Linked DNA regions of Homo sapiens. The protein of the gene in region 2 interacts with the protein of the main gene of each other region in a pairwise test. Each region holds a gene or a part of one and is shown on either strand. Other genes may lie near its edges.

The links.
Region 1: the proteins of HSBP1L1 (region 2) and PBX4 interact in binary tests that used the Homo sapiens proteins (3 or more experiments, as listed by UniProt).
Region 3: the proteins of HSBP1L1 (region 2) and CMTM4 interact in binary tests that used the Homo sapiens proteins (3 or more experiments, as listed by UniProt).
Region 4: the proteins of HSBP1L1 (region 2) and TNFRSF10D interact in binary tests that used the Homo sapiens proteins (3 or more experiments, as listed by UniProt).

Annotation. Positions count from the first base shown.
Region 1 is NC_000019.10:19,566,662-19,573,697, forward strand, and holds part of PBX4 (pre-B-cell leukemia transcription factor 4), read right to left. Parts: intron 4,211-7,036; exon of another isoform or gene 4,173-4,210; coding exon 3,925-4,172; intron 3,757-3,924; exon of another isoform or gene 3,639-3,756; coding exon 3,448-3,638; coding exon of another isoform or gene 3,438-3,447; intron 2,924-3,437; coding exon 2,788-2,923; intron 1-2,787.
Region 2 is NC_000018.10:79,967,624-79,971,339, reverse strand, and holds the end of HSBP1L1 (heat shock factor-binding protein 1-like protein 1), read right to left. Parts: intron 3,252-3,716; coding exon 3,157-3,251; intron 901-3,156; coding exon 889-900; 3' UTR 518-888; downstream 1-517.
Region 3 is NC_000016.10:66,630,724-66,637,759, forward strand, and holds part of CMTM4 (CKLF-like MARVEL transmembrane domain-containing protein 4), read right to left. Parts: intron 5,859-7,036; coding exon 5,682-5,858; intron 1-5,681. UniProt on the Homo sapiens protein: Acts as a backup for CMTM6 to regulate plasma membrane expression of PD-L1/CD274, an immune inhibitory ligand critical for immune tolerance to self and antitumor immunity. May protect PD-L1/CD274 from being polyubiquitinated and targeted for degradation.
Region 4 is NC_000008.11:23,154,027-23,161,062, reverse strand, and holds part of TNFRSF10D (tumor necrosis factor receptor superfamily member 10D precursor), read left to right. Parts: intron 1-6,083; coding exon 6,084-6,189; intron 6,190-7,036. UniProt on the Homo sapiens protein: Receptor for the cytotoxic ligand TRAIL. Contains a truncated death domain and hence is not capable of inducing apoptosis but protects against TRAIL-mediated apoptosis. Reports are contradictory with regards to its ability to induce the NF-kappa-B pathway.

The DNA.
Region 1 (7,036 bases), on a different chromosome or scaffold from region 2:
CTACAGGCACGTGCTACCAAGCCTGGCTAATTTTTGTACTTTTTTTTTTTTTTTTTTTCGGAGACGGAGTCTCACTCTGTCACCCAGGCTGGAGTGTGGAGTGCAGTGGTGCGACCTCAACTCACTGCAACCTCCGCCTCCCTGGTTCAAATGATTCTCCTGCCTCAGCCTCCCCAGTAGCGGGATTGCAGGCATGTGCCACCAAGCCTGGCTAATTTTTGTATTTCCAGTAGCCACGGGGTTTCACCATGTTGGCCAGGCTGGTCTCGAACTCCTGACCTCAGGTGATTCGTCCGCCTTGGCCTCCAAAGTGCTGGGATTTCAGGCATGAGCCACCATGCCTGGCCAACATTTGGTGTACTTACATTATCCTTGCAATGTTAAGTATAAAAAGAAGGATCCCTGTCTGTGTGCTCTCTGTTCCAAACATAGTGTCTGCCTACCCCGGGGGTGTGAGCAGCCTTCTCTTGATCCACATGGGAGGCCCCAGAGGCTCCATCCTGGTTGAAGCAGCCCTGGTTGTCCTCCAGACAATTGTTCCTTGGGGGCCAAATGTCTCACGCTTCTCCAGGGGCCTTGAAGACCCAGAGGCGCAGCCCCTTGCTCCAGCTCTGGCCTTGTTTCTGACACCACAGCAGATCCCGATGAGCAAAGTCATATGTGACTATGACCTCAGGATGTTTTGCTGCCTGCGTGACCCCGAGGGGTTCCAATTGCTCTCTGTCACAGAGACTTGACTGGACTTAGCCTGGGTTGGAGCAGAGCATGGTGGTGAAGGACTAGAAACTCAGCCCCTCCAACTGCAAAGTAGGGAGGGCTGTGGTGACATGCAGCAAGCCATGCTGTGGGTCAGCACCTGCCATTCCTGCTGCCATAGAGGCTGTGGGGCTGTGCCTGCCCAGGTGGGAGGGCGGCACCCAGGCCCTGTTCCACACACTCATGCTGCCACGGGGGTATGGCCTGGACCTGGCTTGCTGCCATAGGCTGCCTGGACTTACTGTTTCCATGTTAAAACCTTCGGAAATATTTCTTAGCCTCTTGGTCTTAGTGTCTCCCTCTTTCACCCCCAGTTCCACAGAGGACACTGGTGGCTGCCTACCAGGCTATAGAGTCAGGGAGCTCACACTCTCTACCACGTCACCTCAGGGGGCTCACACTCCACAGCATCCCCCAGGGAACTCACACTCCATCTCAATCACCTCAGGGAGCTCACACTCCATCTGTATCCCTCAGGGAGCTCACACCCCACCTGTATCCCTCAGGCAGCTCACACTCCATCTGTATCTCTCAGGGAGCTCACACTCCATCTCTGTCCCTCAGGGAGCTCACACTCCACCTCAATCACCTCAGGGAACTCACACTCCATCTTTATCCCTCAGGGAGCTCACATTCCATCAGTATCCCTCAGGGAGCTCACACTCTATCTGTAACCCTCAGGGAGCTCACACTCCATCTGTATCCCTCAGGGAGCTCACACTCCATCTGTAACCCTCAGGGAGCTCACACTCCATCTGTATCCCTCAGGGAGCTCACACTCTACCAGTATCCCTCAGGGAGCTCACACTCCATCTGTATCCCTCAGGGAGCTCACACTCCATCTGTAACCCTCAGGGAGCTCACACTCCATCTGTATCCCTCAGGGAGCTCACACTCTATCAGTATCCCTCAGGGAGCTCACACTCCATCTGTATCCCTCAGGGAGCTCACACTCTATCAGTATCCCTCAGGGAGCTCACACTCCATCTGTATCCCTCAGGGAGCTCACACTCCATCTGTATCCCTCAGGGAGCTCACACTCCACCTCAGTCACCTCAGGGAACTCACACTCCATCTGTATCCCTCAAGGAGCTCACACTCCATCTGTATCCCTCAGGGAACTCACACTCCATCTGTATCCCTCAAGGAGCTCACACTCCATCTGTATCCCTCAGGGAACTCACACTCCATCTGTATCCCTCAAGGAGCTCACACTCCATCTGTATCCCTCAGGAAGCTCACACTCCGTCTGTATCCCTCAGGGAGCTCATACTCTGTCTGTAACCCTCAGGGAGCTCACACTCTGTCTGTATCCCTCAGGGAGCTCACACTCCATCTGTATCCCTCAGGGAGCTCATACTCTGTCTGTATCCCTCAGGGAGTTCACACTCTGTCTGTAACCCTCAGGGAGCTCACACTCCGTCTGTGTCCCTCAGGGAGCTCACACTCCACAGCATCACCTCTGGGACCTCGCATTCCATCTGCATCGCTCAGGAAGTCCTCAGGTCTCTCTGTGGGTACACTTGCACCCCTGCCTCACAGATGAACGGGGAGAGCGCTGGAGTCCCACATTTGTAATGCAGAGCCTGGATCTGAGCTGGCCTGGCTGACTCAGAGCCTGGAGACTTGGCTCCTGTTCCACACTTTTTTTGTTTTTCAGAGATAGGATCTCACTCTGTCACCCAGGCTGGAATGCAGTGGCGCCATCATAGCTCACTGCAGCCTCACCCTCCTGGGCTCAAGTGATCCTTCCACCTCAGCATCCGAAGGAGCTGAGACCACAGGTGCACACCACCAAGCCCAGCTAATTTTTTAAATTTTTTGTAGAGACAGTGTCTCACTATGTTGCCCAGGCTGGTCTCGAACTCCTGGCCTCAAGCGACCCTCCTACCTCATCCTCCCAAAGTGCTGGGATTCCAGCAGCCATGCCTGGCCTCTGCACACATTTAACAAACTTCCCTGGGTGTCCTCATGGGACCTAGTCATCCACTCCTCCCAGGCGTGGCGAGACGTGGCAGGAGAGAACGTCACCTGGGAGATGGTGAGGCCGCCCTTCCTGGCCAGCTCTTCTTTGGCTTCTTCGCTGGGGTAAGGGTTGTTCAGATGGGAGTAAAAATACTCATTCAGCACTTCCGTCGCCTGCTTGCTGAAATTCCGCCGCTTGCGCCTGCAAAAACAGCCGCCTTCGTAGGCATTAATATGCTGGGACTCCAGTACCACCCCCACCTCTAGTTCTGAGTATGATTTTCCAGTAGTTCTGAAAACAGCAATCACTTGAGGTCAGGAGTTCGAGACCAGCGTGGTCAACATAGTGAAACCCCGTTTCTACTAAAAACACAAAAATTAGCTGGGCATGGTGGCGGGAGCCTGTAATCCCAGCTACTCGGGAGGCTGAAGCAGTAGAATCGCTTGAACCTGGGAGGCGGAGGTTGTGGTGAGTGGAGATCGCACCACTGCACTCCAGCCTGGGCACCAGAGTGAGACTCCGTCTCAAATAAATAAATAAATAAATACAAAATAAAATAAAAATGAAAACAGCAATACTTCAGGCCTTCTTCCCAAGAGGCTGTGAGGCCTCCAACCGTGACTGCAGACACAGCCTCCAGGGCTGTCTTCAACCCAAGCCAGCACTATTTCCCTCCAGTCCCTCAGAGCCGGCCCTTGAGGTTTTGGGTACGTACAGGCCCTGACCTGGCATCGAGCAGCCGCGAACGCAGGGTCATCACTGCCTCACAGGTGCTCTGCTTCAACTGCATCTGGATGGCGCTGAACTTGCCGTGAATGGCGCCGACCATGCGCTCAATCTCCTTAGGGGAGACAGGCCTCATCCTGCTCTGCTCCTGGAGGAGGTTGGTGACGTGCGTGGTGAACTCACGACAGGCCTGGGGTGGGAGCACAGACACGCCGGCCTGTGACTAGGCAGCAGGGTGGCACAGGGCAGCAGGTTCCACAGCGGAGCAGCCGCCTGCCACCCCCTGTAGTTCACACACCGGCGGGTGACTGTTAAGTAAATGGAAAGGGCTTTCAGTAACAATGGACCACCTCTGCAGCGACCAACTGCATGGACTCCCTGTTCTGCGCCACGAAAGAAAGGTGGTTAGCGTTCCGTGTTTCGCTTTGACAAATGCGCATTCACATGACAGAAACTCTTCCATGCAGAAAGATCACCTGTTCATATTTCTCTAGCTCAGAGTGGTAAATCTGTCGGATCTGGGACAGCTTGGCCCTGTAGTCAGAGTGCTCAATGCTATTGTCATTTGGACAGCCACCTGGTGTTGCTGTGCCGGCCCTGGCCACCGCTCCTCCTCTTCCTCTCTTCTCGGGCCTGCACACGCCCTCAGCCAGCAGCATGTTATCCAGCCTCAGGAGCTGGGCGTCAGGGGGATCTTCGTCTTGAATGCCACGGATGCTTACCACTAGATAAGAGAGACCGGGACAAGTCACAATTCATTTTCTGGAGAGAAAACAAACCATGAGAAAATGTGAGCACTGGTGTTATGTCTGAAGATTTTTGCATAGAACCCTTCGGGAGAAAGGAATACTCCACTTTATCACCAAATTGGATGATGGACACTGAGCACCCCGCTAAGACATGGGTCCAAGTGCCATCCTTAGAGCGCAGTCTGGGGAGGAACGGGGAGACACAGGTCGCAGTTTGGCATAGCCTGTGAGGGCAAACCTTGGTCACAGCTGTGTGCACGCAGCAGGGCCAGGCAGGCGCCTGTTGCTGGGGTCACCTGAACCCCTGAACCGAGTCTCAAGAAGTGCTGGGGAAGAGGGGGCACCCAAGATGCTGCATACTGATAAAGGCAAGTGGCAGGCTGGCATTGGCAGCGTGGCTGGCCTGGGCCCAGGACTGTGCAGCTGTAGGCCTGTTGTGGCTGGTGGGTGGGGTGTGTGTGTGTTGGGGTGGGGGTGCTGTTATAAAACTGGATAGGAAAAGCCTGATAAAGAAAGTGCCAGAAAAGATGAAATAACCCACTGAAAGATTTTAAGCAGAGAAACAAGATAATGGGCCCTACAATTTGGAAATGCCGTCCCAGCTCTGCAGAGAGGGGACCTGGATAGGGGCAGGGCTGGACTGCAGGGGAAGCAGTCAAAGGGCAGCCACCATCAAGGTATACACAGCTGTGGGGTCTGCAGGTCAGCTACAGGGCAGTCAGAGAACCCCCAGGATTCGTGTCCTGGGACACGGGTGTCAGAGAAGGGAAGACTCCAGGGTCATTCCCAGATTCTGCCATGGGCAGCACAGCCAATGGCATCGCATTCTCCCAAGTAAAAAGCCTGGAGCTGCAGCTTGTGCAGGTGGGGCTGAGTGAAAAGGTGGCTTCACGGCCGGGCACAGTGGCTCACGCCTGTAATCCTAGCACTTTAGAAGGCTGAGGCGGGCGGATCACTTGAGGTCAGGAGTTCGAGATCAGCCTGGCCAACATGGTGAAACCCCGTCTCTACTAAAAATACAAAAATTAGCCAAGCGTGGTGGCGCCTGCCTGTAATCCCAGCTACTAGGGAGGCTGAGGCAGGAGAATCACTTGAACCTGGGAGGCAGAGGATGCAGTGAGCTGAGATCTTGCCACTGCACTCCAGCTGGGGGGATAGAGAGACCCCGTCTCAAAAAAAAAAAAAAAAAAAAGTGTTCTCTTAGAATCAGGCTTTTTTTTTTTTTTTTTTTTTTGAGATGGAATCTCATTCTGTCACCTAGGCTGGGGTGCAATGGCATGGTCTCCACTCACTGCAACCTCTGTCTCCCAGGTTCCAGTGATTCTCCTGCCTCAGCCTCCCGAGTAGCTGGGACTACACATGCGTGCCGCCATGCCTGGCTAATTTTTGTATTTTTAGTAGAGACAAGGTTTCACTATGTTGGCCAGGCTGGTCTCGAACTCCTGACCTCATGATCCGCCTGCCTTGGCCTCTTAAAGTGCTGGGATTACAGGCATGACCCACCGTACCGGGCCAGAATCAGGCTATCTTAATAAGGTCAGCTACTTACCGAATTAGTGCTCAGATGACAATTCCGTTTGATTATATCATATAGTCATTTACAAGTGTCCCTTTCTTATTCCCTACATAACAGATGAACCTTTTCTGTCAAAAACTCACTAGTCAAAACTGAAGGAACTCAAGCGATATCCTTGTAAGAATTTTCCTTAGAGATTTCCACTTCAGGCTGGGCGCAGTGGCTCACGCCTGTAATCCCAGCACTTTGGGAGGCCAAGGTGGGCGGATCACCTGAGGTCGGGAGTTCGAGACCAGCCCAGCCAACGTGGAGAAACGCCATCTCTACTAATTAGCCGGGCATGGTGTCGAGTGTCTGTAATTCCAGCTACTTGGGAGGCTGAGGCAGGAGAATTGCTTGAACCCGGGAGACGGAGGTTGCAGTGAGCCGAGATCACGCCATTGCACTCCAGGCTGGGTGACAAGGGCGAGACTCCGTCTCAAAAAAAAAAAAAAAAAAAAAGAGATTTCCACTTCAACACTTAGTGCTAGTTTATTAAGCACACATGCAACAAATTTTATAAACCAGGATTTTGAACAAGAGACAAAAAAAATTAGCAACCAGATCCAAGGACTGACCACAAACCTGGTGCTTAATACAGGATAGTGTTGGCCAGGCGCAGTGGCTCACGCCTGTAATCCCAGCACTTTGGGAGGCCAAGGTGGGTGGATCACCTGAGGTCAGGGGTTCGAGACCAGCCTGACTAACACAGAGAAACCCCATCTCTACTAAAAATACAAAATTAGCCGGGCATGATGGCACATGCCTGTAATCCTAGCTACTTGGGAGGCTGAGGCAGGAGAATCGCTTGAATCCGGGAGGTGGAGGTTGCGGTGAGCCGAGATCACGCCACTGTACTCCAGCCTGGGCAACAAGAGCGAAACTCCATCTCCAAAAAAAAGAAAAAAAAAAAATATACACACACACACACACACACACACACACACACACACACACATATAGGATAGTGTCCCACCTTCTCCAAAACTGTTTCTTACTCAATTAAAATTGGAAAAAGCAATATGAGAAAAGTGGGAAGATTTCAAGAAGAATCCACACACCCTGTTAAACTTTCAAGGTAGAATAGATGGCGGCACAAAGTTGCAGACATGCAGAGACTTAACCACAAGTCTCCAGTACCCAGGCAGCGAATGTCCATGGCACAAATTAGTCATGCAAATTAGACATAAATTTGTCTAATTTGATAATAAGAACATAAACTATAATAGAAACAGCCAAAATAGCTAATACATGAGATTGGTTAAGTAAATTATGATAGAACCA
Region 2 (3,716 bases):
ATAAAAAAAGATAAACATGGTGTTACCATTTGACCCAGCAGTTTCATACCCAGGAGAATTGAACGCATATGTCCACATAGAAACTCGTACACAGAAGCCAAAATGTGGAAACCCACGTGTCCATCAACAGATGAACGGTTAAACAAAATGTCCATCCATAGAACGGAATATTATTCAGTCATAAACAGAATGAAGTACTGTAAGTGAAAAGCCAGTTACTACATATTGTGTGATTCCATTTATACGGAATTTCTAGAATAGGCACATCCATAGAGACGGATTAGTGGTTGCTTAAGACTGGGAGGGAGGGGGAAATAGGAGGTGACAGCTAATGGGCAGTTTTATTTTTGATGTAATGAAAATGTGCTTACATAAGCCGAGCAGGCATAAACAGAAAAAGTGCCCTAAGATTGTGATAATGGTACAATTCTGTCAATTGCATAATTGGTGGATGATGTGTGAATTATGTCTCTTAGGATAACAGCTTTACTGGCGTTACCAGAAAAAGATAAAATAATTACATTCCACATTTGTAAGTTTATTGTATATTTATTGTAAATGTGTTGCATATTGTATTAGTCTGCCCAGGACTGCCATAACAAAATACTTCAGATTGGGTGGTTTAAACAACAGAAACTTGTCTTTTCACAGTTCTGTTTTCTGGAAGTCCCAGATCAAGGTGCTGGTCCGTGTGATTTCTGGGGAGGGCTCTCCTTGGCTTGCCGATGGCCTCCTTCTCTGGTGCAGGCACGGAGGGGAGAGCAGGCGAGCCCCTTGCGTCTCTTCTCAGAAAGACGAATCCTGTTGGATGAGGGCCCCACCCTCAGGACCGATGTAACCTTAATGACTTCTGTAGAGGCCCCATCTCCAAATACAGACATGCTGCAGTTAGGTCTTCAGCTATTTAGGGAGACATAAACGTTCAGGCCGTAACTCCTATCAGGTGTATTAAGTATGTTCACCCCTGATTTTAATAACGTTCTCACTGGTGCTTTGTGGCTGCAGTACAGTTGAAATCATAATGATTTGGACTCTGTATTTCAAGTTTATCTCATTATGTACCTGCTGTCTACCTTGCCCTGACTTAAGTGCTTTGCAAGCAATTTTCTTAAATCCTTACAACCACTTACCAGGTAGATATTTGGCAGAGAAGAAAACTAAAGCTTAGATTTCCCCAGGTTACAGCCAGCAACAGAGGATAAGAATTTGAAACCTAGGCCTGCATGGCTGCCAAGCCTTGCCTCGTCTGTGGCACTGTGGTGCTTTAATCAAGTTGGATATACTAGTGGCTCTCTGGGTACCTAGTGAATTCTATTTCCCATCTCCCCAGGATGGCTTCTAGGCAAAGTCCAGAAATTACTTGTGGCAGCTAATGCAGGTGACAAGCCCCTAGGTACAGAATAACCAAGTCCCCTAGAGAAACTGGCAACGTGTACACAAAGAAGTAGACAAGAATAGTGCAGCATTGTTTGGAAACAATATTAGTCAAATATAAAGTAAATCATCAGAGGACTATCAGGCAGCAGTTGGCGACTGACCTAGAGCGACACGTGTCGACATGAATCTCAGTACTGAACAAAAAAGCAAGGGGCAGAAGGCTACAGAGTATGGGGCCACTGACATACTGCTTTAAGACTTTCAGAATAAACGTCTGAAGGTTATGATGCCAGTGTGTCTGCAGGAAACTTGGTTAGGTGTCTGGGGGAAGACTGCCTCTGCTCTGAGCGCACGCAGAGAAGGGATGAGGACTTCAGTCCACCAGCAGAATCAGAGCACTGCCATCTCTGCCTACCTGAACAGACCACACCCAAAAATTAAAATGCAGGGTGAATTCACGGCTCACCAGCTTTCTGACCTGGAGGTTCAGAGGATCCCTGGGGAAGCATCCGCGTGGGCACAGGTGGGAGGACCTGCTCAACGTGGGCGCTATTCTGCATCGTTTTTTTTTCTTTCTTTCTTTCTTTCTTTCTTTCTTTCTTTCTTTCTTTCTTTCTTTCTTTCTTTCTTTTTCTTTCTTTCTTTCTTTCCTTTCTCTCTCTCTCTCCCTCCCTCCCTCCCTCCCTCCCTCCCTCCCTCCCTCTCTCTCTCTCCTCTCCTCTCTCTCCTCTCTCTCCTCTTTCTTTCTTTCTTTCTTTCTTTCCTTTCTTTTCTTTCATGTTGTCTCGCTCTGTCGCCCAGGCTGGAGTGCCGTGGCACAGTCTCGGCTCACTGCAAGCTCTGCCTCCCGGGTTCACGGCATTCTCCCGCCTCAGCCTCCCAAGTAGCTGGGACCACAGGCGCCCGCCACCACACCCGGCTATTTTTTTTTTTTTTTTGTATTTTTAGTAGAGACGGGCTTTCACCATTCACAGGATGGTCTCGATCTCCTGACCTCGTGATCCGCCCACCTCGGCCTCCCAAAGTGCTGGGATTACAGGCTGAGCCACCGCGCCTGGCTTCTGAATCATTTTTTCTGTTATTTTTACTAATGGCTTTAAACATGCCTCTGATCCTAGCATTCTTTTGTGGCATGTTTACATTCAGCATCAGAAGCTGTGAGAATGCCTACAGTGCCCTGATGAGGTTCGGGTTGCACTGGGTGGCCTCAGATGCCCTGCAGAGGAGGCACTTTGGGAGGCCGAGGCGGGTGGATCACCTGAGGTCAGGAGTTCGAGACCAGCCTGGCCAATAAGGTGAAACTCCGTCTCTACTAAAAATACAAAAACTAGCTGGGTGTGGCCGGGCGTGGTGGCTCACGCCTGTAATTGCAGCACTGGGAGGCCAAGGTGGGTGGATCACCTGAGGTTGTGAGTTGGAGACCAGCCTGGCCAACATAGTGAAACCCCGTCTGTACTAAAATACAAAAATTAGCTGGGTGTGGTGGTGCATGTCTGTAGTTCCAGCTACCTGGGAGGCTGAGGCAGGAGAATGGCTTAAACCCGGGAGGTGGAGTTTGCAGTGAGCCAAGATCATGCCACTGCACTCCAGCCTGGGCGACAGAGCAAGACTCCACCTCAAAAAAAGAAGAGAGCATTTGGAAATTTATTATTCCTGAGCAGTTTTCATGCAGCACAGAGGCAGCAATTCCCATAGTGAACAAATATGGGATTGTATGTTTCAAGATGAAAGCAGTCAAAACATACGAAAACGGTTGACATAGTTTGCTAATAACCTTACCATTTGTTCTTTAATAGAATTTTCAATGCCAGCTTGCACCATTAAGTCCTTGACATTCTTCTGTAAGTCCTCAATGCGATTTCCCATTTCTTCCAGTACAGTGTTAAGGCGCTCTGCGTAGAGCTGGAGTCCAGAGCCGCCGAGGCACAGCCAGGATGTCCTCAGAGACTCCGCCTCCCATGGCACATGCAACTTTTGAAATGAGGGAATCAACGACAGGCCTAGTGTCCATGCAAATCAGCTTCTTTCCCTGAGTTTTCCTCAGTGTGTCTCTTTAACCTTTAAACTGTGAGCTTAGAAAACGTGGCTCCCCTTGCTTGGACATGGATTTGGGGACAGGAGATTGTCTGGTATATTTTAGTCAAACTCTGGGTATGTAAAAATAAATATAATGGAATTAACTCTTTTTTGTTTGTAGGGTCTTGCTCTTCCCCCAGGCTGGAGTGCAGTGGTGTGATCACAGCTCACTGCAGCCCTGAACTCCTGGGCTCAAGCGATCCTTCTGCCTCAGCCTCTCGAGTAGCTGGGACTATAGACTACCACCCAGCTGAAATTAACTA
Region 3 (7,036 bases), on a different chromosome or scaffold from region 2:
AAAGTGCTGAGATTGCAGCCTCTGCCCGGCCGCCCATCGTCTGGGATGTGAGGAGCCCCTCTGCCTGGCTGCCCAGTCTGGAAAGTGAGGAGCATCTCTGCCCGGCCGCCATCCCATCTAGGAAGTGAGGAGCGTCTCTGCCCGGCCGCCCATCGTCTGAGATGTGGGGAGCGCCTCTGCCCCGCCGCCCCGTCTGGGATGTGAGGAGCGCCTCTGCCTGGCCGCGACCCCATCTGGGAGGTGAGGAGCGTCTCTGCCCAGCTGCCCCGTCTGAGAAGTGAGGAGACCCTCCGCCCGGCGGCCGCCCCATCTGAGAAGTGAGGAGCCCCTCCGCCCGGCGGCCACCCCATCTGAGAAGTGAGGAGCCCCTCCACCCAGCAGCCACCCCATCTGGGAAGTGAGGAGCGTCTCTGCCCGGCAGCCACCCCGTCCGGGAGGGAGGTGGGGGTCAGCCCCCGCCCGGCCAGCCGCCCTGTCCGGGAGGGAGGTGGGGGGTCAGCCCCCCGCCCGGCCAGCCGCCCCGTCCAGGAGGGAGGTGGGGGGTCAGCCCCCCGCCCGGCCAGCCGCCCGGTCCGGGAGGGAGGTGGGGGGTCAGCCCCCGCCCGGCCAGCCGCCCCGTCCGGGAGGTGAGGGGCGCCTCTGCCCGGCCGCCCCTACTGGGAAGTGAGGAGCCCCTCTGCCCGGCCACCACCCCGTCAGGGAGGTGTACCCAACAGCTCATTGAGAACGGGCCATGATGACAATGGCAGTGTTGTGGAATAGAAAAGGGGGAAAGGTGGGGAAAAGACTGAGAAATCGGATGGTTGCTGTGTCTGTGTAGAAAGAAGTAGACTTGGGAGACTTTTCATTTTGTTCTGTACTAAGAAAAATTCTTCTGCCTTGGGATCCTGTTGATCTATGACCTTACCCCCAACCCTGTGCTCTCTGAAACATGTGCTGTGTCCACTCAGGGTTAAATGGATTAAGGGCGGTGCAAGATGTGCTTTGTTAAACAGATGCTTGAAGGCAACATGCTCCTTAAGAGTCATCACCACTCCCTAATCTCAAGTACCCAGGGACACAAACACTGCGGAAGGCCACAGGGTCCTCTGCGTAGGAAAACCAGAGACCTTTGTTCACTTGTGTATCTGCTGACCTTCCCTCCACTATTGTCCTATGACCCTGCCAAATCCCCCTCTGCGAGAAACACCCAAGAATGATCAATAAAAAAATAAAATAAAATAAAATAAAATAAAAAAACACAAGACGAGTCACGCCCTAGGGCTCAGGGCTCAGCCAGTGGCCCCTGTGGGTAACTGCCAACTGTTCTCAACCCACCACAGCACCCAGCCTGGGTTCTGAGATAGAGGCCTAAGAGGCCTCCAGGGCCACAGAGCCCACTAAGAAAGGGTGACCAAAGCGGAAGAAGAAAAACAGGACAGTGTGGGGGCCCAGGATGCAAGGTGAGAGAGTATGGCAGGAAGGACAGAGTGCCCCATAGCAGACACCACCAGGATGTTGAGTGGGGTGAGAACCCAAGAGCAACCAGAGGATCTAGGAACACGGAGGCCCCGTCCCAGGCTCCTGACCAGGGGACTTTCAATGCTGCCAGACTGGAGTGGGCTGAAGATGAATTGCGGAAGACCACCACATAGTCAGGATGGTGGACTGGGGGAAGGGGCAGGGGGTGTGTTTAGCTGGAAAATACACATGGGAAGCTTTTGGGGTGTTGACAATCTCCTATTTATTGACCCAGGTGGTGGCTGTATATTAAACTCCATATTTACTTTCATAATTTTTTCAGAATTTGACAATAAGAGATTAGAAAAGTGAGATTAGGAGAGGGGGAAGTAGAGAAGGCAAGTGCAGACCTCCTCTTCTGGGAAGTGGGGCTGAGCTGGCCCTGGGCTCTGGGGCCAGTTGAGTGGGAGCCACTGGCAGGCTTTTGGGATGGGGGAGGATCAGACACGCCTTTTAGATAGCGCCACATCCCAGAAGGGAAGGGGAGGAAAGGAGGAGCCCCGTGGCACTAATCAAAGTAAACAGGGGTGGAACATGTGAGTGTATGAGCTCCTAGGACACAGAGAAAAACAAATATCGCCAGGCACGGTGGGTCACGCCTGTAATCCCAGCACTTTGGGAGGCTGAGGCGGGCAGGTCACCTGAGGTTGGGAGTCCAAGACCAGTCTGACCAACATGGAGAAACCCCCTCTCTACTAAAAATACAAAAAAATTAGCCGGGTGTGGTGGCACATGCCTGTAATCCCAGCTACTCGGGAGGCTGAGGCAGGAGAATCGTTTGAACCTGGGAGGTGGAGGTTGCGTTGAGCCAAGATTGTGCCACTGCATTCCAGCCTGGGCAACAAGAGCGAAACTCCGTTTCAAAATATATATATATAAATATATATATATATAAATATATATATATAAATATATATATATATCAAAGTCCCACAATCCATCCAAAAATAAACCCAAACCAAAAACTTGACATTAACAGAATCATTCAAATTCCATCAAATTATGCTTGTAGAAAATTATGCACTGTCCTCCTTATTTATCATTTCTCATCCATATTTATGTCAACCTGGGCTCCTGGAATGACCTGTGTTTTTAAATCTATACCAATCACACCCTATTTTAACCATCAGGCTGGCTCTGCTGGAGACAAAAATACTCCCAATACTCCCACCACCTTGTTACAGAAACACAACACAGCCAAGGCCAACCCTTCTGTAGCGAGTTGATGAGCTGAGATCGGCCGTGAGGAGCTCACTTTTTCACCCCTCTCAGAGAACACTGGACATGAGCTGCCTTTAATAGATACCATCTTGGCAGGGTGCAGTGGCTCACGCCTGTAACCTCAGCACTTTGGGAGGCTGAGGTGGGCAGATCACCTAAGATCAGGAGTTGGAGAACAGTCTGGCCAACGTGGCGAAACCTCGTCTCTATTAAAAATACAAAAATTAGCTGGGCACGGTGGCACATGCCTGTAATCCCAGCTACTCAGGAGGCTGAGACAGGAAAATCACTTGAACCCGGGAGGCAAAGGTTGCAGTGAGCCGAGATCGCACCACTGCACTCCAGCCTGGGCGACAGAGCAAGACCCCATCTCAAAAAAAAAAAAAAAAGGTACCATCTCCTCAAGTTCATGTAAGGTATATGCCCTTTTGTTGGGCAAACACACAGCCTTTATCTGCTCCAAAAGAGTGGAAAGTCTAGAACGGATCCCAAAGAACAGGATCGTGTTCTCAAGTGACCACATCACCAACACCCAACCACAGGCCCAGGCCACCACCACCCAGAGGAAAAGAACGAGTATCAACTTCCCTGGGGAGAGATGCACCTCAACATGACCGGTGACATGGTAGTGTGGTAGTCAACAAGTGGAAAATCTTTCATGATTAAAATAGAAAAAGCAGAATTCCAGAAAGCTCACTAAATAGGTATTTCTGGGCTGGGTGTGGTGGCTCACACCTGTAATCCCAGCACTTTGGGAGGCTGAGGTGGGTGGATCACCTGAGGTCAGGTGTTTGAAACCAGCCTGGCCAAGATGGTGAAACCCCATCTCTACTAAAAATACAAAAATTAGCTGGGCATGGTGGTACATGCCCATAATCTCAGCTACTAGGGAGGGTGAGGCAGGAGAATCGCTTGAACCCGGGAGGCGGAGGTTTCATTGAGCCGAGATCACGCCACTGCACTCCAGCCTGGGCAACAGAGCAAGACTCTGTCTCAAAAAAACAAAAAAAAAAACCCAAAAACAACAAAAAGTAGGTATTTCTGGGGATAAACGCTGGTATAAATTAGTAAGAAATCTGAAGCATGAAGTCTTTTAACAGGTTAATGGCTGTCAGATAAATGGACAAAACAGAATTAAGGGGGTCAAGTCAAACCTGGTGGAAGTAAACAGGGGAACAGTGTGGGTAACATAACAGCAGCGTGCCAGGACACCTCTTACTCAGGTGAGATGAACATTGCTGCACTGGCCACAGCGCCCACTGGTTTGAGGCCTTACCAGATGCCTTTACACCCATTACCTCATTTTATACTTAAAAAAAAACCCTGCAAAAAAAAAAATTATTATCTCCACTTTACCAGTGCTGACACTTCACCAATGTAGGGCTCTCAGTGACTAGCCCAGGGTCATGCACAGCCTGTTTCAGCAGCTACCTTGGACTTGAACCCAGCTCGGTCTGTCTGACTCAATGCCTATAGTCTTAACCTTTCCAGCAGCTGCTTCTTTGTCAAACAGGTCCTCCCGCAGGGTTTCACAGCCCAGCCCCTTACTCAACAAGTATTTATTGACAGGCCTCAGGAACACTAGGCAAGTAGGATAGCAATGAACAAGATGCTGACCTTGACCTTGACCCTGCATCCATAGTATGAGCATTTTAACTGGGGGAGGTTTGCAAAGTTCTCTTAAACAGTCTACTACATGCTCTGTAAGCATTTTCTTATGGATAACATAAACCTCATTTTAAAAATAGTTGAGACATTACAACCTGTCACAAAAACTCAGACAAAATGCTTCTAGTTATCTTGAGGTTTTAGAGCTTAAATTTAAAATACCACCACATTTTTCTCAGCTTCCAGTGCTAAGACAAAAAACAGCTAAGTTTTCAACTGATATCTACTTTTCTAGATCAGCAACTCTCCTTTTTTCCTCCTTTAGGAGTCTGTGCTGGTTAGGACAACCCAGAGAGCACCTGTAAGGAGGACCTTCCCCACCCAGGGCACACCAGGAGAGCAGCCCTGACAGGGAGGTGGCAGCTCCAGCCTCCTCCTTGGGGCCCACACTTTCTCATGGGCCCAGCAGCAGCCAAACACAGACAGAGCCACGTGTGGCTTCTGTGTGGCTCCCAATCTCAGGCAAGGGTAGCTGGTCTGAGGCGCTCTCCTCCTGCTTCCCCCTCAGCAGCTGAGGTGCCCACGGCGTTCTCATCCCACAGGCACAGCAGTGTGAGGCAGCCGACTGTGCTTACGTGGATCTCCCTGACTGACTCCCTTTGAGCTCTTGCACATGCTAATTTGTAAATAAATATCAAGAAAACCAAATGATATTAAAATCCTCTTCTCATTCAGCACAGTAAGGACACAGTCTAGGAAAGGGGGTCTAGGACTGACCAGCCCTGTGCTTCCCATCTGATTAACAAGGGTGGCCAAACAGAGCTAAGAACCCAAACCATGGGGAGAAGGGGCAGGTTTCCACTCAAGACTTTCTGATCAAACCACCAAACCCCCCCAGGTCCTCCTAGTTGCTTTGAATTTAATAATATTCCTAGGCTCTGTAAGTTACTGGCATTTTCATTCATATTTTCAATTCTTCCAGAATCAATATTTTTATAAATGGCTTTTAGGTCCAGTCTGAAAAGTATGTAAATGTCTACACTGTATTTTATTTCCCATATTCTCCAAATATCAACATGACCAGTCTTCTCAGATGATTGCAAAATTGAAATGACATCTTTAAGGTGGCCAAAATAATTGTTATGATGTTTCTCCCATTAGTTAAGATTCAGTTTATTTTGTAGTTTTACTTAACCCAGTAAAGAAATTTAAAATTTCACAGTTGAATTATAATAGAATATTTAAGGATCAAAATGAACTAGAACCAAACATGACCTGGAGAGATTCCAGCTTTTCCTTGGAGCCAACAGGCACGTGATCCTTTCATGGCCAGAGTGGCCGCTTGTACTCACTGTCAGATTCCAGTTGATCTGGGGGATCCTCATGTGCAGGTTGAGACTGAACATAATCAGCAAGACGCCAGTCACCACAAACGCACTGCAGCTCACAAACTCAAAAAAGTAGAGGCCTTCACACGGGGAGCATGCCATGATGGTCTCTATGCAGATGAATGCAATCAGGGCCAAGATCTAGGAAGAAAATTGGAAACATATATGTACGTATATGTTTAGTATACATCTGCGGACATACGTACCTGCCATGCTTATATAACACTGAACAACAACATACTGCCACTGAGTTTTCCTCTGGGACAGCAGTGTAACTGTCGGAAATCAGACCTGCTTCAATTCTTACCTAAAGAATAGGTGCAGGGGTCTTAATGGAAGGATCAAATTACTAATGTAAACAGTGAAGGCCCCACCACATACACTGAAATCAATCTGGTGTGATGTGGCCCCCGGGTGTAAACTGCTGGCCCTTGGGAGGAAGCAGAAACATCTCTACAATGTTTCTAGGTCTTCTCCTGCCACCAATAAGTAAGTGGGTGTTGCCTATGTGTGTTTCTAATTCATGGTCTCTACCACAATTATCCCAAACACTGGGAGAGCAGAATTCTGATGGTGTCTGACTTGTGCCATCTGCAGTTACCTTGGTGGCTCCTGCTAAAGTCACACAGGTTAACTGGGACTCCTGACGGCTTTAAAACAATGATTGGTATAATCTCCTTTTCCCCCAATTAGGTGGGAACAAGAGGCGCACCTAATTAATTCATATGGTTTTAAAAAATATATTTTTTGAACTTGATCACAACAAGATGGCAGCTTATTAAAAAACATTAAGAAATCTACCAATAATAGAATAAATTTCTAGGCTGGGCACGGGGGCTCATGCCTGTAATCCCAGTACTTTGGGAGGCCAAGGTTGGCAGATCACCGGAGGTCTGGAGTTCAAGACCAGCCTGACCAACATGGAGAAACCCCCTCTCTACTAAAAATACAAAATCAGCCGGGTGTGGTGGCGCATGCTTGTAATCCCAGCTACTCAGGAGGCTGAGGCAGGAGAATCGCATGAACCTGGGAGGTAGAGGTTGCAGTAAGCTGAGATCGCGCCATTGCACTCTAGCCTGGGCAACAAGAACGAAATTCCATCTCAAAAAAAAAGAATAAATTTTTTTCTGAAGGACCAAAGTACCATTCTGGCAATATGTCCTAAGAGTTCATAGATCATAAAATCAAATAGATATTGATAGAAATTACCAAGTGAACTTTTAAAGGGGGATTTCAGGAGAAGGAGGAGGCCCAAAGGCGGAGTTAATGGCCCTGTGATCAAAGAAAGGTTTCGAGCACCTAAAGCCAGATCAGTCTCA
Region 4 (7,036 bases), on a different chromosome or scaffold from region 2:
CCACCCAGCAGAGGCTGCACCTGTTCCTACTTGCACCTCCATACCAGGCTCCCTGGCCTTGGGGCAGAAGCTTCTGAAGACTGGGGTGGAGCACCATGTGGAGGGGCCATCGAGGAACAGAGGAGCCAGAGTTCAAGTGAGGACAGCGATGGCACTGCAGGGCCACAGCCTGGTTTACCTGCCAAGTTTCCAGTTGTGCTTCTGGTGGGTGTCCGGCCCGGGTTGGAGTTTGAAGATGAGCAGGAAAGGTCTCCATCCAGGTGGCTGCAGATGGCTGCTCACCCAGCCCCTACTGAGAGGCCACGGTCCCAGTTCTGGTTCTCTGTCCTGTATCCAGGAGTGGCAGGGTAGCGAGGCTCTAGCTTCCAGGTTGGGGATGGAGACAGTGGGGACAGTGCCATGCCCCGAGCCTGTGCTGTTGGGCAGCTGGTATCCTGCTCCCAGCCAGAGAGTGTACATCTTCGTGTAGTGGATTTTCCTAACAACCAGGGGACATGAGGGCAGGTTGTTTTCCCTGTTTTACAGGTGGCAAAATGAGATTCAGGAGCAATGTCTCCAGCATTTTTGTCCTCACCTTCTGAATAATAGCAGCCATATTTGGGCCTCTGAAGGGCTAGAGTTCTCTGAGGAGCTGCTTCTCTGATCTCTGTCCTGCACTTGGCCTCTGGGAGCTCCTATGGGTCCTCAGCAGAGTCCACAGGGCTCTTCGGAGTCCCCTCCCTGTGCCACAGCCTGGAGCCTGTCCTTAGGTGGTAAGCTGAGGCCGCCACTGCGCTCACCTCATGGGCTTGGGGGGAAAGTGAGTCACCCAGGAAATAGACAATGAGCTCTTTATTGTCTTTGGAGTCTGCTGGAGCCAGGGAGGACAGATGAACCCCATGTGAATCCTGCTTCCTGGAGCCCACAGTGTGGTGGGTGAGGTGACACCAGGAATCATATAACTAATAGGAGGTAGCATGAGGGAGGCCTGATATCTCACCACCATTGCCTCCCCCTCCTCCAGAGAGGCCGTGTTGGTGCAAGGCTATAGGATGTGGTATTGTTGGCGTGGAGGATGGTGTTTGGTTAGAGTCACCATTGAGAGTCATAGAGGGAAGCGAAGCTCCCCTTGAAGGGCTTTTTTTTTTTGGCTGGACCTGAGAATTAAATTGACATAAGACAGGTACACAGGAGAAAAGCACGTACGACTTCTTTTTTCTTGAGATGGAGTATTGTTCTGTCACCCAGGCTGGAGTGCAGTGGTGCAATCTCGGCTCACTGCAACCTCCGCCTCCCAGATTCAAGCGATTCTCCTGCTTCAGCCTCCTGAGTACCTTGGGATTACAGGTGCCCACCCTTGCGCCTGGCTAATTTTTGTATTTTTAGTAGAGACGGGGTTTTGTCATGTTGTCCAGGCTGGTCTCGAAGTCGAGCTCAGGTGATCCGCCCATCTCAGCCTTCCAAAATGCTGGGATTACAGGTGTGTGCCACCATGCCCAGCCAACACACACATTTATTTAATGCAAGTTTTACCTAGCACAGAGAAGCAGTGAGAGTCAGTTACTTATATATTGAATTGGACCAAGTAACTTGTGAAGAAGCTAGTAAATATATGGAGGCTAAAAAGCTGAGTGGTTCTGTTCTAACAAGGTCTGCACAGTAATCTCTTGGCCTCGACTTCTCATCCTTAAAAATAAGGAGATCGTCCTATGTTTCCCTGGGGACTTTCATCTCCTGCTTTTAGGAAACACAAAAGAGGTCAAAGCATCTTATTGCGCCTGCTGTTTTTCAGTAGCCTTTAACTGATAATAGTCAATGGGCCAGGGTGGGTGGGCAGGTGCGATGGCTCACATGTATAGTCCTGCCCAGGTGGGTGCATCCTTAGAGCCCAGGAGTTCAAGACCGGCCTGGGAAACATAGCAAAATGCTGTCTCAAAACCAAAAACCAAAATAAAACCAAAAACCACAGACACAGACACACACACACACACAGAAAATCATGTCGTGTGAAGGAATACAAGCAGAATGCATACCATGTGATTCCTCATCTTATTAAAATACAACTAATCTATTGTGATAAAAAGCAGAAGAAGCATTGCTGGGGACATAGGAGCAAAGCAGAAGAGAGGATTACATTGAAAAATGAAGAAACACTGCAGGACGGTAGACATGTCATTATCTTATCGCGGCGATAGTTCCACAGTGTATACGTACATCTCAACCTACCAAACTACATGCTTCAAAAATGTACACTTTGTTTCATATCCATTATACCACAATAAATCTATTTTAAAAAAACCTTCAATAGAATATAAGCACTTGAGTGTATACTGTATTCCCTATAGCACTTGCACATAGATCATGGAAATAGGTATGCATAAAAAGTCAGTACCCAGTTAAAGTGGAATTCTAAAAGGTAATTAACATTAAAATGTGCAGGGGAAAAAGGAGTAAAAAAATTAGACTAGACAACCGTAGTTTAAATGGTAAACGTATAGGTCTATTTTGACTAACAATTATTGCACTCCCTGTAAATCCACTGAGCACTACAGTTCAATGGTAGAAATGTTTGGAAGGGCTGAAAAAACAAGACTCAGCTATATCTTGTCTATATGAGATGGGCCTTAAAAGGAAGACACAGATGCTGTCTGTGGAAAGCAAATAGATGGAAAAAGATACCCCACGCAGAGTGTAAGGCCAAGAAAACTGCCGTGGCTATCTCAGTATCACATGAAGTTGATTTTGTTAGCGGTGGACGAGATCCGAGTTACCCTACGTTGAAGGCGGCGAATCCGTATGGGTCCACAGCACCTTCAGCTCTTCGCCTCCTGAGAAGAAAGAATTGGACTGAGGGGCATAAGGCAGAAGGAGAGACAGAGGCAAGTTTCAGAGCAGGAGTGAAAGTTTATTAAAAAAGCTTTAGAACAGGAAGGAAAGGAAGGAACGGAAAGAAAAGAAGGAAAGTACAACTTGAAAGATGGCCGAGCAGGTGACTTGAGAAACAGTGCACAGCCGGACTGCCTGAGTTGGGGTTTTATAGGTTGGCCTACTTCCAGGATCTTGCCTTACTTCTCCCCACTCCTGAAATCTTATTGGGAAGCTGCTGATCAGTTTCAGGTGTTTTCTATGTATTAGGAGACTGCCTTTTTCTGGCATTGGCTGTAACCAGTTCTTACTTTAGAGACACGGTTATCAACCACCTGATGGTCGCCCAACACTGCTGGTGTCAGAAGCGGGGAGCCCTCTCCTACCCTGCTCATACCTGACTAGCTGCCTACTGTAACAATTTTAGGACATAGAATATTATGGGAGCTCAAAAGGGACCCTTGTAGTTAAAAAGGTTAATTCTTCAAGGAGTATAATAATAATCACAAATTGTATATGCCTAGTAATACAGCTGCAGAACACATGATGCAAAAAGAGAATGAAAAGGAGATTAAATCAGCTGTTTCTCTGTAATTGACAGAACGGTCAGATGAAAACCCCGGTAAAGTGGCAAGCGATCTGCACACTATCAACCACCTTGACTTAACTGACATTTAAAGAGCAGGAGTGGAACATCCACTGAACACTGATTCCTTTCTATGCTCATGATACTTTCACCAAGATAGACTGGGTTCTGGGATATAAAACACGCGATATGACCTCTAAACTTAATGAAACGAGACTGGAAGTCAGTAATAGTATCCATAGGGAATTCTAAAATTTGGTTATTGAACAATACACTTCTAAAAAATCTGTGGTTCAGAGAAGAAATCAAAAGGGAAGGTAAAATGTTTCAAAATAAATAATAATAATATAACAGCAAAACTGGTGGGAAATGGCTAACAGTGCTCGGAGTGAAATAATACAGCTTTCAATGTGTCTATTAAAAAAATTGGGGAGATGGGGAGTTACTCCTGAAGGGTATGCAGTTCCTTTCTGGAGTGATAAAAACATTCTAAGATTGATTATAGTGATGATTGCATAGCTATGAGTATATTAAAAAACTACTGAAATGTAGACTAAATGGGTGAATTATATGAATAATCATAATTACTAATTATGTGATTTGTGTCTCGTTAAAGCTGTCAAAAAAAGAAAAATATGTGAAATTTATGGCCTGAAGATCTACATTAATCAATCATAAAATATAAGCATAAATTTAAACCAAAGTAACAAGGAGGAACATAAATCAAGGAAATAGAATAGAAACCACAAAAAGAACTGACAAAACGGACTGTGTGTGGTGGCTTACGCCTGTAATCCTAGTACTTTGGGAGGCTCAGGCAGGCAGAACGCTTGAGCTCAGGAGTTAGACCAGCCTGGGCAACGTGATGAAACCCCAGCTGTATAAAATACACCAATATTAGCCCAGGCATTGGGGCACTCTCCTGTCTGTGGTCCCGGCCACTTAGGGACTGAGGTTGGAGGACCACTTGAGCCCGGGAGGCAGAGATTGTAGTGAGCAGAGATTACACCACTGCACTCCAACCTGGATGACAGAGGGAGATCCCGTCTCCAAAAAAGAAAAAAAAAAAAAAAGAGTTGAGAAAATGAATAGTTGCTCTTGAAAAGGAGTAAGGGTGTGAGAGCAGAGAAAGGTGACAGAGACATCGCCTGAACCTAGAGGGACCCCAGCTCTAGAAGGGAGGATTTGGGAAATGTGCATTAGCTTCACTGTCACCAACTACTAGGCAGGCTTTCATGTGGAAGAAAGCTACATTTTGTCTTGCTGAGAGCCAGGTAGTTGAACAGAGCCCAAGGTAAGTAGCTTTTATTGTAACCATTTTGTTTTTTCTCAGGAGCAAGATTATATTAAATTTAATTAAATGTAAATTTACAATTAAATTAATTTTGTACTTTTACACACTCCCAACTTAAAAGTTACAAAAACTATGCAAAAAAAATTTGAAAAATAGCTGTTGGCATGATGAAAGCTATTATTGAATTTTTCAGTGTGTACTTTCTACAAACAAGGAAATTAACATCAACACATTACCACTATCTAATATGCAGACTCTATTCCGATTCTCCAGTTGTCTTCTCGTCGTCATTTATAACACAGAGATCATGGCCATAATCCCTGAATTGCTGTTTTATCTTTTTCTGTCACTCTTTGATATTTAGTGGGAACAGCTTGTCAAGGTCCTTTGTGAAGCAGAAATTACTTAATGTTTGATGCTATATCCTGACTTTCTTTAAGGTTATATTGTAACCCTCATTTGTAAAAATGTGTATTTTTATGTGTGTGTCTGTGTGTGTGCGAGAGAGAGAGAGAGAGAGAGAATATTCACCCACTGGTCAATTAAACACTTGGTCAAACTAAATACATTAGATGCTATTTCTGCTTGAAGGGCTCATATGTGTGGTTTTTTTGTTTTTTGTTTTTTGTTTTTTTTTTTGAGACAGAGTCTCGCTCTTTCGCCCAGGCTGGAGTGCAGTGCAAGCTCCGCCTCCTGGGTTCACGCCGTTCTCCTGCCTCAGCCTCCCAAGTAGCTGGGGTTACAGGTGCCCGCCACCATGCCCAGCTAATTTTTTGTATTTTTAGTAGAGACGGGGTTTCACTGTGTTAACCAGGATGGTCTCAATCTCCTGACCTCATGATCCACCCACTTTGGCCTCCCAAAGTGCTGTGATTACAGGCCTGAGCCACCGCGCCTGGCCTTTTGTGTTCTTATAAAATCTTTTCTTGCCAACTACAGTGGTGTGTTCCTGTTACCCAACTTGCTTGGGAGACTGAGGCGGGAGGATCACTTGAGGCCAGAAGTTCCAGGCTGTAGTAGACTATGATCACACCTGTGAATAGACACTGCATTCTAGCCTGGGCAACATAGCAAGACTCTATCAAAAAAAAAAAAAAACTCTTCTGCTCATATTTTCTGGGGTAAATATATTTTATGTTATAATATGATAAAAGGATACGGAGGTGTTTTTCTTTATAGAAAATAGCTACCTAACAGGCCAGGGGACAAACACGGATGCAAAAGAATGAAAGTTTGGAATGGGAAAAAAGTCCAGGCTCTCATGGGTTTTGTCACTTGGGGTGAAGGGAATGTGAGACGGAGCCTGGGAGAGGTAAGGTCTGGAAGCCACTCAAGCCCATCTCTGCCTTGTCCCCACAGGTCCGGGTTGACTCTGCCACCATCCCCCGGCAGGACGAAGTTCCCCAGCAGACAGTGGCCCCACAGCAACAGAGGCGCAGCCTCAAGGAGGAGGAGTGTCCAGCAGGTGCACTCTTATTTTTAAAAATCAGTTTATTTTTAGTTGACAGATAAACATTGTATATATTCATGGTGTACACCATGATGTTTGGAAATATGCACGCATTGTGAAATGGCTAAATCAAGCTAATTCACATACTTATCGTGTATTTGTTGTAAGAACACTTAAAAGTCTACTCAGCAATTTTCAGCTGTATGGATACAGAGCCCTGGGATAAGCCCTCTTTGCCCTCCTCACCTGTGGGTTCTGTAGCCATCCTCATCTGTGGGTGTTGCATCCGTGGTTGCAACCAACACAGATCAAAAATATGTGGAAAAAATAATGAAAATGATAACATGTCAATAAAAGTAGATAAAAAGCAATGCAGTAAAGCACTTATTTACATAGCATGTCTATTGCATTAGGTATTACAAGTAACCTAGAAATGATTTAAAGCATATGTACCTGGGGTGTATGCAATACTATCCCAATTTGTATCAGGGACTTGTGTAAGTGCAGAGTTTGTTCCATGGAATATATTCCCTGTGAATAGAAGGCAGGACTGTACAACACATTGTTTTAATAACTGTAGTCACCATGTCACACAATACATCTCTTGAATTTATTTCCCCCTGTCTAACTGAAATTTTGTATCCTTTGACCAGCATCTCTCCAACCCACCGTGCAAATACAGCGCTGGTAATCACCATTCTACTCTCTACCTCTATGAGATCAAGTTTTAAGATTCCACATATGTGAGATCATGAGGTGTTTGTCTCTCTGTGCCTGGCTTATTTCACTTAGCATGATATCTCCAGGTTCATCCATGCTGTCACAAATGACAGAATTTCCTTCTTTGTTGAGGCTGAATAGT